Homo sapiens: one gene and its partners. The protein of the gene in region 4 interacts with the protein of the main gene of each other region in a biochemical or structural test. Each region holds a gene or a part of one and is shown on either strand. Other genes may lie near its edges.

Evidence for each region.
Region 1: of the proteins of EIF3F (region 4) and RPS6KB1, one has a biochemical effect on the other in vitro, tested with the Homo sapiens proteins (one study listed by BioGRID).
Region 2: the proteins of EIF3F (region 4) and ERCC6 form a complex in vitro, tested with the Homo sapiens proteins (one large-scale study listed by BioGRID).
Region 3: of the proteins of EIF3F (region 4) and CDK11B, one has a biochemical effect on the other in vitro, tested with the Homo sapiens proteins (one study listed by BioGRID and IntAct).

Annotation. Positions count from the first base shown.
Region 1 is NC_000017.11:59,945,121-59,948,097, forward strand, and holds part of RPS6KB1 (ribosomal protein S6 kinase beta-1), read left to right. Parts: intron 1-285; coding exon 286-398; intron 399-1,430; coding exon 1,431-1,668; 3' UTR 1,669-2,466; coding exon of another isoform or gene 2,467-2,482; 3' UTR 2,483-2,977. UniProt on the Homo sapiens protein: Serine/threonine-protein kinase that acts downstream of mTOR signaling in response to growth factors and nutrients to promote cell proliferation, cell growth and cell cycle progression.
Region 2 is NC_000010.11:49,529,122-49,532,621, forward strand, and holds part of ERCC6 (DNA excision repair protein ERCC-6), read right to left. Parts: coding exon 3,422-3,500; intron 1,720-3,421; coding exon 1,599-1,719; intron 1-1,598. UniProt on the Homo sapiens protein: Involved in repair of DNA damage following UV irradiation, acting either in the absence of ERCC6 or synergistically with ERCC6. Involved in the regulation of gene expression.
Region 3 is NC_000001.11:1,649,005-1,652,504, forward strand, and holds part of CDK11B (cyclin-dependent kinase 11B), read right to left. Parts: coding exon 3,435-3,500; intron 634-3,434; coding exon 495-633; intron 1-494. UniProt on the Homo sapiens protein: Plays multiple roles in cell cycle progression, cytokinesis and apoptosis. Involved in pre-mRNA splicing in a kinase activity-dependent manner. Isoform 7 may act as a negative regulator of normal cell cycle progression.
Region 4 is NC_000011.10:7,999,845-8,002,352, reverse strand, and holds the end of EIF3F (eukaryotic translation initiation factor 3 subunit F), read right to left. Parts: 3' UTR 501-2,508; downstream 1-500. UniProt on the Homo sapiens protein: Component of the eukaryotic translation initiation factor 3 (eIF-3) complex, which is required for several steps in the initiation of protein synthesis.

The DNA.
Region 1 (2,977 bases), on a different chromosome or scaffold from region 4:
GGAGCCTGAATTTTCCTGTTTTTTTTTCTATTCCTGTCAGTAGGGTAGAATTTTGTTTGCTAGCATATCAGGCTCAATGGAATTCTGCTTTCTTGAAGTGTGTGCCTCACGAAATGGCTGGAAAGAAGTTAACGGGTCTAAAAATGAGGTTGAGGACGTGGGAGAGTGTACACATTGGTGGTTTTAGGTGTGCATCATTGTGTAGGTATGTCAGACTGAACAACCCCATTCTCTTGAGATACATGACAAAATGCCATTCTGTAGTCCACTGTTACTGTCTTTCAGGGTTTTACATATGTGGCTCCATCTGTACTTGAAAGTGTGAAAGAAAAGTTTTCCTTTGAACCAAAAATCCGATCACCTCGAAGATTTATTGGCAGCCCACGAACACCTGTCAGGTATTTCACACTCTTATTTTCACTTTTTTTTGTTTTTAAACAACCTACAAGAGTGTTTGCTTAAGAAGTTTATGCCAAGTTATATAAATGAAAGACTGTCATACTCTCTTTGGTTGACATAAGCACAGCATCTATATCTTACATTGCAAAGGACTAGTCTGACTAATCTATGATGTTATATGGTTTACCTTCCCTCCCAAAAGTAAGCAGCCATACTGGCAAATGTCCTCTTTATCCATTCACTCAGCATTTATTGTGCACCAAGAGCACCAGCACTACATACTGCATGTTATGTGTGTGTATCTATATAGTACTATAATACAGGAATTGTCCCTGTCCTGATGAAGCTTACAATTTAGTGGGAAAGTCACAATAGACAAAGGATATACAAAAATATAATTACAAGTAGTGCAAAGTGCTATAATTTAAAAGGGGAAAAAAAGAATGTACTGGTAGAGAGCAGAGGAAAAACAAGGGGGCTTCTACTCACAGTGATCAGAGAAAGGCCTCCCTGGTGTAGTAACATCTAGCAGTGAACGGAAAGAGCCAGCCCTACAAAAATAGGAGGTATAAGAATGTTGCAGGCAGAAGAACAGCAAATGCAAAAACCCTGAGGGAGGAGAAAAGTTGCCCTTTTCCTGGAAGTGAAAGGGAAATCAGTGTTCCTGGAGTGTGTGGTGAGTGAGGAGAAGGGCAGAGGTTTGGAAAAGTATTTTATTTTAAATGCAATAGAAAGCTGTTTTGAGCAGGGGAGAGTAAAATGATATATATAATACGCATTTAAATGTATATATATCTCATTGAGGGTTTTGGGGGTCAGGTGTAGAGGTAAAGAGACCAGTTAGGAAATTCTAGCAGTTAATCTAGGTGGGGGAGAGATGGTTCAATTTTTGCCTTTGTGCTAATCCACGTGAAAATAAAATTAAATGAAAATAAATGTCATGTTACCCCACTCCCTTTAAACGTAAAGGAAATATGTCTTGTTGAGATGACCCTTAAGCAAATGAATGATAGCTCTTCCTTGTCTTAAAGCCCAGTCAAATTTTCTCCTGGGGATTTCTGGGGAAGAGGTGCTTCGGCCAGCACAGCAAATCCTCAGACACCTGTGGAATACCCAATGGAAACAAGTGGCATAGAGCAGATGGATGTGACAATGAGTGGGGAAGCATCGGCACCACTTCCAATACGACAGCCGAACTCTGGGCCATACAAAAAACAAGCTTTTCCCATGATCTCCAAACGGCCAGAGCACCTGCGTATGAATCTATGACAGAGCAATGCTTTTAATGAATTTAAGGCAAAAAAGGTGGAGAGGGAGATGTGTGAGCATCCTGCAAGGTGAAACGACTCAAAATGACAGTTTCAGAGAGTCAATGTCATTACATAGAACACTTCAGACACAGGAAAAATAAACGTGGATTTTAAAAAATCAATCAATGGTGCAAAAAAAAACTTAAAGCAAAATAGTATTGCTGAACTCTTAGGCACATCAATTAATTGATTCCTCGCGACATCTTCTCAACCTTATCAAGGATTTTCATGTTGATGACTCGAAACTGACAGTATTAAGGGTAGGATGTTGCTTCTGAATCACTGTTGAGTTCTGATTGTGTTGAAGAAGGGTTATCCTTTCATTAGGCAAAGTACAAAATTGCCTATAATACTTGCAACTAAGGACAAATTAGCATGCAAGCTTGGTCAAACTTTTTCCAGCAAAATGGAAGCAAAGACAAAAGAAACTTACCAATTGATGTTTTACGTGCAAACAACCTGAATCTTTTTTTTATATAAATATATATTTTTCAAATAGATTTTTGATTCAGCTCATTATGAAAAACATCCCAAACTTTAAAATGCGAAATTATTGGTTGGTGTGAAGAAAGCCAGACAACTTCTGTTTCTTCTCTTGGTGAAATAATAAAATGCAAATGAATCATTGTTAACCACAGCTGTGGCTCGTTTGAGGGATTGGGGTGGACCTGGGGTTTATTTTCAGTAACCCAGCTGCAATACCTGTCTGTAATATGAGAAAAAAAAAATGAATCTATTTAATCATTTCTACTTGCAGTACTGCTATGTGCTAAGCTTAACTGGAAGCCTTGGAATGGGCATAAGTTGTATGTCCTACATTTCATCATTGTCCCGGGCCTGCATTGCACTGGAAAAAAAAATCGCCACCTGTTCTTACACCAGTATTTGGTTCAAGACACCAAATGTCTTCAGCCCATGGCTGAAGAACAACAGAAGAGAGTCAGGATAAAAAATACATACTGTGGTCGGCAAGGTGAGGGAGATAGGGATATCCAGGGGAAGAGGGTGTTGCTGTGGCCCACTCTCTGTCTAATCTCTTTACAGCAAATTGGTAAGATTTTCAGTTTTACTTCTTTCTACTGTTTCTGCTGTCTACCTTCCTTATATTTTTTTCCTCAACAGTTTTAAAAAGAAAAAAAGGTCTATTTTTTTTTCTCCTATACTTGGGCTACATTTTTTGATTGTAAAAATATTTGATGGCCTTTTGATGAATGTCTTCCACAGTAAAGAAAACTTAGTGGCTTAATTTAGGAAACATGTTAACAGGA
Region 2 (3,500 bases), on a different chromosome or scaffold from region 4:
CAGAACTCAGATATGTGCCCTTGGGCTTCACTGGGGAGGCCCAATGAACTGGGCTTGTGGTACCTGGTTCATCTTTCCAAGGTCAAGAATGTTTCAACTTCAAATACGAGTGTGGGACAAGGGGAAATCCTGAACATAAATGCCACACTGCAATGACTTGCAATTTGTTTTTTCTCAGTTTTTCTCTCAGCAACATTCTGTCTAAAGCACTTTCCCTCTGAATAGTCTACCTCTAACCATCAAAGAGCTGCTAAAGACAAGAATGCATAATTAAGTTAGACTAGGACCTGAAGTGGTCTCAAGTTTGATGCTCTACACCCTTGAAATTCCAGCCCACTAGAAGCCCAAGAAGGTCTCTGCACATCAATTTCACATGCTCCCACAAGAGACCAGATGTCCTCTCTCTGATTTGGGAGGACCCACCTGCCTTGGGCAACTGCTAGCTTTGACCTTTGGGCTGCTATTCTGGAAGCAAGTGAGAGAAGATGGGGTAGTGCAGGTAACAGACTGGTGAGTGGAAAGTATAATAAAAGGAGGGCCACGTGAACTGAACCAACGCACAGCCCTGCCCCTGGAGAGCTTAAAGAAAAGATGCAAGGACTCTACTCACTGCAGTGAATCAACTGTAAGCACAAGTTGGGATGGCAGAACTGAAATGGTTACAGCTAGTCATTCCTATCTATTGCAATGTATTTTCACAAAGGGGTACATAAATCATAAAAAATGTTTCAGACCTCACAAAGCTGTACATAAATCCTTAAAAAAAGTTTCAAACTTCATAAAAATAATATCCTAAGTAACAAATATTCCCTACCCTTAAGTTTTCCAAAGCTAAGTACAACCCCAGTGTGGCTGGGTGCTGACTGTAACACCCAAGGTGGGAGGAAGGGCCAAGCTCTCGCAACTGTCAGCAAAGGTGTGTGAGGGTCAATGGCTGCACCACCAAGAAACAGAGTGGAGACAATTAGAGGAAGCAAGGGCTAAGCAGAAAAGAGTTCACAGGAGACCAGGAGACTGAGGCCAGTGTGACCCTAAGCCAGGCCAAAGAAATGGTGATGCAGGAAAACTAAGGAAGTGCGCCCAAGTGAGGCAAGCAACACCAAAAAGGAACTTTTCTCAAATACACAGATGGTCTCCAACTTATCATGGTCTGACTTGCAATTTTTCAACTTTGTGATGGGTTTATCAGGGCATAACCCCATTATAAACTGAGGAGCCTCTGGACTTAACTATGGTTTGACTTACAATATTTTGACTTTAAGATAGGTTTTTCAGTGTATTTAATGCATTTTTGACTAACAATATTTTCAATTTACGATGGGTTTGTCGGGATGTAACCCTGTTGTAAATCAAGGAGCAACTGTATACGTATGGATGTGTGTGTCTATGTATGTGTGTTTTTTTAAATGCAATAGAATGGGATGTTAAAGGAAAACAGCAGAAAGATTAAACATACAAAAGAAACCCAAAATTTCTCTATTGTAATTATAAGTATTTGCTTCACATCTTATAAGCACTTTTTAAAATACTTCCTAAATTAAGTGCCCCTAAATGATGACTTTTTCAAAAATGCAATACTGAATGTTATTCTGAATCACCTTATTATACTTCTGTCGTTTTACAGAATCTAGTTTCCTGTTGATGTCTCTGCTGGTGGCAGCTTGAGGGCTAAGCTGTTCAATAATTTTATTGATTTGCCTTAGGGATGTCGTACATGACCTGAAAAATAAGATAAATTGTCTATTTTGCACTCTGATAACATTTTTATAGCATAATATAAAGAGAAAAATGCTAAAAACATGTCCCTTTTACTTCTTATTAACTAAAAGATAAAGGAAACTAAACCAGAATACATACCCTTATTGGCCACAAATAAAACTTGTAGGATCATTAGAGGTTTAAGATGACTGCTAGTGTTTTCTTTTATCTAGCTGATTTAGATCAGCTCATTCCCATTTGTAAGCTGCTTCAGTCATTCTACAAGCATTATTTAAGTGCCTACTTTATTCAACACACTATGCTAGAACAATGTGCAATAAGTTGTCCTTTTACATGAAAAAATGCATACATGGGTTTTTTAAGCCCGTTACGGAAGCCTTCCAAAGTCTGGAAGCATCCTAAATATGCTTAAACATTTTTTTATATAAATCACACATCTGCGACAATATTTTTCTTCTACATAAATGGAAGATTCACTTACTACAGCACTAAACTTTGTGGTGCAAAGAAAACAAATCAATTTAAAATAAATTACTCCTAAAATAGACACCATAGAATTGTAGCTTCCAATTTTCAAAACACAAATTCAATCTTCTTGATGATTGTGTAATTTGCTGTTTGTATCCTCTGTGGATTACAGGATAAACAATGCGTATTACTGGCTGAGACACCACATGCCACCAGCCATCTAGCATCACTCTGCATGGAGACCCCACAACTCTCCTCTGTCACCTCTGGAGAAAGAGGACACATTTCCAAGATCAAATGTAAAAGTATCATTACAAAGAGTTGAGGTCCTCAACACTCAGACTATAACCATGAACGAGCACCTGCTCCTGAGGAGGCCAAAAGAACACACCAGGGAATGGTTAGCAGAAAACATGTCTTTGAAGTACCAACAACCACATTCATGACAGCGCCACACTCCACCCTCCCCAGCTATCCTCTGTGACACTGCTCCATCCTCCATCCCGTTCAGCCCTCGCCTTCTTTCTTGCTTACCTGACACTGCCCAGAACACTGCCCAACGGGGGCCAAGCAGCAATGATAAGTGAGCTCAACCCCTCCCACTTCCCCTCTCCTGTCCTCACCTCCTACCCTTGCTCAGGTCTACAGCCTCCCCTTCTTCCCCATTAACGTGCTATGCTCAAAACAGCTCAAGTCTTCTCCCTCTCTAAGACACAAATAAAATCTCCATTTCCAGAGTCAGAACAAGGATGGAAGAAAAGAAAACCGGGGAGTCTTTATTATTTCTAAAAATGCAAATCTGAAAAATTGCCCAAGGACTGAACACTAAGTTTGGGGACAGTAAGCTAGAAAGAAGCTACCGCACAGAGAAAAATGTGAAGGGGGCGCAATGTATTCCTGGCATCTCGAATAGGAAACACCTGAATTTAGGTGCACCTCTCCTGAGATCACTTTGTGCACATGCTGGTGAACAGCCCTTCTCTTCTGGACATTATGCATGCAACTGGCTTTCACGAGCTGGACAGAGACTCTAACTACCATGTACAATGCCACTCCTAAGGGGAAGGGCTGGGACTCAAAGATGAGGTTGAGGACTGCCCTTATTGACTCTGTCCTCCAAATAAAAGGTTCTACACATCTCCTAAACTTCTGGAATACTAGAGCTTTCCATTACCTGAATATCCCTGTCATGTTTTACCACCACTTTGAAAGGAAGAAGATGGGCTGCACTCACGTGAGGTCATCCAGGACCGACCGATACTCCTTCTCCACGTCAACGAGCTGGGAGGCACGGCTGGCCTCATGGATGGCAT
Region 3 (3,500 bases), on a different chromosome or scaffold from region 4:
AGTGAAAACTCACTCCCTCAGGACAGTTCTCTTGGTCAGCCTCGTCCAGCGTTCACTGTGCTGTTTCCATGTCTACCACTTCTGCACCAAATGTGACTTCTTCTTTTTTTTTTGAGACGGAGTCTCGCTCTGTCGCCCAGGCTGGAGTGCAGTGGCGGGATCTCAGCTCAATGCAAGCTCCACCTTCCGGGTTCACGCCATTCTCCTGCCTCAGCCTCCCAAGTAGCTGGGACTACAGGTGCCCGCCACCATGCCCAGCTAATTTTTTGTATTTTTTTAGTAGAGACGGGGTTTCACCATGTCAGCCAGGATGGTCTCCATCTCCTCACCTCATGATCCGCCCACCTCGGCCTCCCAAAGTGCTGGGATTACAGGCGTGAGCCACCACACCTGGCTCAGATGTGACTTCTATTGCCAAATTCTTCTTCATTTCTAGGATGGGACACACTACCACAGCCCTTTTATAAAGTCCTCAACTGACCCAGCCGACTCACCTTTCTCTCCTGGAATGCTCCCTTGCCATCTCCCTTCTCTTCTGTCTTTCCCATTCCCGGCGAGCTTTATCCTGTTCTTCTCGATGCCGTTTCCGACGTTCGTGCTCTCTTTCTTTTTCTTTCACTCTAGCATGCTTCCCTAATGAGAAATAAAGTGTCATGCAAAGAAACCTCACTTCAAAAATTTCACATGAAGCCGGGCACGGAGGCTTATGCCTGTAATCCTAGCACTTTGGGAGGCTGAGGCGGGCGGATCACCTGAGGTCAGGAGTTCAAGGCCATCCTGGCCAACATGGTGAAACCCCGTCTCTACTAAAAATACAAAAATTAGCTGGGCGTGGTGGCAGGCACCTGTAATCCCAGCTACTAAGCGAGGCTGAGGCAGAAGAATTGCTTGAACCCGGGAGGCGGAGGTTGCAGTGAGCCGAGATCACGCCACTGCACTACAGCCTGGGCAAAAAAAAAAAAAAAACCCACGTGAAACTGAAATTAAGACCGGGCGCGGTGGCTCACGCCTGTAATTCCAGCACTCTGGGAGGCCGAGGTGGGCGGATCACAAGGTCAGATCGGGACCATCCTGGCTAACACGGTGAAACCCCATCTCTACTAAAAATACAAAAAATTAGCTGGGTGTGGTGGCGGGCACCTGTAGTCCCAGCTACTCGGGAGGCTGAGGCGGGAGAATAGCGTGAACCCAGGAGATGGAATTTGCAGTGAGCTGAGATTGCGCCACTGTACTCCAGCCTGGGTGACAAGCAAGACTCCGTCCCAAAAAAAAAAAAAAAAGAAATTAAATCAAGAACAGTAAATATTTAAATAAATATTTAAATAATGATGTTAACGTTAAGTAATCCTAATTTTTCTTTTTTTTCTTTTTTTTTTTTGGAGATGGAGTCTTGCTCTGTCGCCCAGGCTGGAGTGCAGTGGCGCAATCTCGGCTCACTGCAAGCTCCGCCTCCCGTGTTCACACCATTCTCCTGCCTCAGCCTCCCGAGTAGCTGGTACTACAGGCGCCTGCCACCACGCCCGGCTAATTTTTTGTCTTTTTAGTAGAGACGGGGTTCCACCATGTTAGCCAGGATGGTCTTGATGTTCTGACCTCGTGATCTGCCGGCCTCGGCCTCCCAAAGTGTGGGGATTACAGTTGTGAGCCACCGCGCCCGGCCTTTTTTTTTTTTTTTTTTTTTTTTAAAGAGACAGGGTCTCGCTATATTGGCCAGGCTGGTCTTGAACTCCCGGACTCAATTGATCCTCCAAAGTGCTGGGATTACAGGCCTGGGCCACTGCACCCAGCCGAATAATCATGATTTTATGTTAAATAAAAAACTTTGAAAATAAAAAACTATCTGCAGTAAGCGTCTAATTATGAAGAAAGAAGAAAAAAGAAAAACAATTCTGCTATCACAGAAGAGCAGAATTGTAATATTCGTCTTTTAAAACTTTTCCATACTGAATAAACTATAATTATCAGTTTTATAATACAAAAATCACTCTTCACAAAGACTACAGAACAAAGCTTTGCTATCAGTGGGCTTCTCCACTGTGCAATGAAGCCACATTAATTAATCAAGTGTATTTATAATCATGACATTTCAATCGGGCTCCAGGTCCAATTTTCCTAACACCCGTAAGAACCTCCTGATGTTGGTACGAGATCAAACTGCTCAAGCCAAACCCATTCTTTGGACTTGAGCAAATACCCATTTTGGGGTGTGTTTTTCTCCTATACTTGTTGAATTCAGGTCATTTTAAATGTAAACAAACTGCTTCCAAACAATATAATGGGGGAGAGAAAACCCCAGAGGAAAAATGGACTAGCCATTCTGAATGGTCTGTGACACACGCACGCTTTCAGCTAGAGTTTGCTCTCTCTGGTTTTCGGTCTGTGATACACGCATGCTTTCAGCTGGAGTTTGCTCTCTGTAGCCCCTCTGAACGGTCTGTGACACACGCATGCTTTCAGCTAGAGTACTCTATAGCCCCTCTGAATGGTCTGTGACACATGCACGCTTTCAGCTAGAGTACTCTCTCTATAGCCCTTCTGAATGGTCTGTGACACACGCATGCTTTCAGCTGGAGTTTGCTCTCTCTGGTTTTCGGTCTGGGACACATGCATGCTTTTAGCTAGAGTTTGCTCTGTATAGCCCTTCTGAACGGTCTGTGACACACGCATGCTTTCAGCTGGAGTTTGCTCTCTATAGCCCCTCTGAATGGTCTGTGACACACGCATGCTTTCAGATAGAGTATTCTCTCTATAGCCCTTCTGAATGGTCTGTAACACACGCACGCTTTCAGCTAGAGTTTGCTCTCTCTGGTTTTTGGTCTGTGACACACGCATGCTTTTAGCTAGAGTTTGCTCTGTATAGCCCTTCTGAATGGTCTGTGACACATGCATGCTTTCAGCTAGAGTTTGCTCTCTCTGGTTTTTAGTCTGTGACACACACATGCTTTTAGCTAGAGTTTGCTCTGTATAGCCCTTCTGAATGGTCTGTGACACACGCGTGCTTTCAGCTAGAGTTTGCTCTCTCTGGTTTTTGGTCTGTGACACACGCATGCTTTTAGTTAGTTTGCTCTCATAGCCCTTCTGAACGGTCTGTGACACATGCATGCTTTCAGCTATTCTCTCTATAGCCATTCTGAATGGTCTGTGACACACGCACGCTTTCAGCTAGAGTTTGCTCTTTCTGGTTTTCGGTCTGTGACACACGCATGCTTTCAGCTAGAGTTTGCTCTCTCTGGTTTTCGGTCTGTGACGCACGCATGCTTTTAGCTAGAGTATTCTCTCTATAGCCATTCTGAACGGTCTGTGACACACGTATGCTTTCAGCTAGAGTTTGCTTTCTCTGGTTTTTCAGTGGTGCTCTGGGGAAGGCAGAAGAGTAGGAACAGGAAAGAAACCACACTTGAACATGATGTCAAAGAAAGTAAATGCTTCTGTACCCCCTTCTGCTGAATGGCTACGATGCCTACGTTTCTCTTTTCTCTTTTCATCTTTTCTGTGATGAG
Region 4 (2,508 bases):
TCAGCCTCCCCAGTCTCTGGGACTACAGGTGTGCACCACTGCTCCTGGCCATATCTTATTTTTTAAAGGAAAGCCATTACAGATATAATTGAAACCACGTCTGCATCCCTTGCCAATACTGTTCCCTCTCTTCCTCTTTTACTCTCCAGAAGTAGTATCTTAAATTTGATTTTATCATTTTTCGCATGTTTCCTACTTTTTTTTTGAGACGGAGTTTTGCCCTTGTTGCCCAGGCTGGAGTGCAGTGGCGTGATCTTGGCTCACCGCAACCTCCACCTCCTGGGTTCAAACGATTCTCCTGCCTCAGCCTCCCAAGTAGCTGAGAGTACAGGCATGCGCCACCACACCTGGCTAATTTTTGTATTTTTAGTAGAGATGGGGTTTCTCCATGTTGGTCAGGCTGGTCTCAAACTCCTGACCTCAGGTGATCTGCCCACCTCGGCCTCCCAATATTTCCTACTTTTTATAGTATATGTAAAAATATAAGGTATTGTTTCATGTTTTTCATGTTTTTATATTTTTATATATTTTTTTGAAAAATTACATTAACAGCATAAAATTCAAAAGTTATACAGAAGAAACAATAAGAAGTAAATCTTTCGTCCTGTCCTGTGCCCCATCTAGTACCTTAAGACAATCAGTGATAGTAGTTTCTTGGCTGTACCTTCACAAATATTCTAGGTATTTATATTATTTATTTTCCCGTACACAACAACAGCATATTATAGACAACATTCTCTCCTGGCTTTTTTCACTTACTCTTTATCCATATTGATATATAGAGGACTGTCTCATTCTGCTTAACAGCTGCATAGTATTGTGTTTTATGGATATATCATACTTTGTTTAATTTCTATTCTGGTAATAGTCATTTGGGTTGATTACCATCTTTACGCTATGATAACCAAGTATTTCAGTACTTATCTATGTATTCATTACATTGTGTCATAACGAGACCAGTTTATTTGTAGGATATATAATGAGGAGTGGAATTCCTGGGTTAAGGGCATGCATATTTGTAATTTTGACAAACACAAAATTACATAGAGAGGGCTGTACCAACTTATATGTCTACCAGCAATCTGTGCCTGTGTCACGTTTCCTCTTACTCTGGCCATTCCAGTGTTAGCAACTTTTAAAATTTGCGAATCTGATTTTTAAAAATGACATCGTTTTAATTTATGCTTTATCAGTGAGATCAAGCATCTTTTCACATTTGTGTGTCTGTGTGTGAGCTGTCTGGTCATATCCTTTACACACTAATGTATCAAATTACTGGCCTTAAAAAACTGTAGGAATTCTGGGACAAGAATATTAGCCCTTTTTTTGATATGAACTGCAAATATTTTCCCAGTTTTATATTTGTATTGACTATTTGTGTATGTGTGTAATTTGACACTCAGATTTTAAAAATGTTGCTAAATTTGTCAGTCTTTTAAAATAACTCCTGGATTCTCAGTTCTTAGAAAGTTCTTCCTCACTCATAAATCATTAAAAACACATTGCTGTGTTTTTTCCCTCATATTTATGGTTTTTTTTTCAGACAAGTTTTTATTCCATGAGCAACTTATTTTGGTGCAGGTAACGAAGTAGGAATCCAACATTGTTTCCAAATTACCACTCATTCGCTCTTAAGTAATCTATCTTTACTTGCTTGAAAACACAACTTTATCATATTCTAGAATTCTGATATCTTTAAATTGACAAAAACTGTATGTATTTTGTACAATGTGATGTTTTGATATATGTACACATTGCGAAATTGATTACCACAATCAAGCTAGTTACATCCATCACCTCACATATTCATTTCTCCTGGTGAGATCTACTCCTAGCAATTTTCAAGTATACATTAACTAGTCACCCTGCTGCACAACAGGTCTCCGGAACGTACTACTCCTGTTTAACTGAAACTTTGTACCCTTGACCAACATCTCCCCATTTATCCCCTCCCTCCAGTCCATGAAACCACCTTTCTACACTCTGCTTGTGAGTTCAATTTTGTGATTCCATATCCAAGTGAGATCATGGCTTATTTCACTAGCATAGTGTCCTCCAGGTCCATCCATGTTGTTGTAAATCAGTTATTTCCTTCTTTTAAGGTTAATAATATTCCATTGTGTAGATGTACCTTTTTTTTTTTTGAGATGAAGTCTCACTCTTCTCACTCTTGTCGCTCAGGCTGGACTGCAGTGGCGGAATCTCAGCTCACTGAAATCTCCACTTCCTGGGTTCAAGCCATTCTCACTTCAGCCCGAGTAGGTGGGATTACAGGCGCCCTCCAAGATGCCTGGCTAATTTTTGTATCTTTTGTAGAGACGGGGTTTCATCATGTTGGCCAGGCTGGTCAAGAACTTCTGACCTCAAATGATCCACCTGCCTTGGCCTCCCAAAGTGCTGGGATTACAGGCGTGGGCCACCGCGCTCAGCCCTATCTATCTTCTGTTGATGGACACTTAGGTTGATGTCTTGGCGATTGTGAACAATGCTTCAGTGAACGTGGAAGTA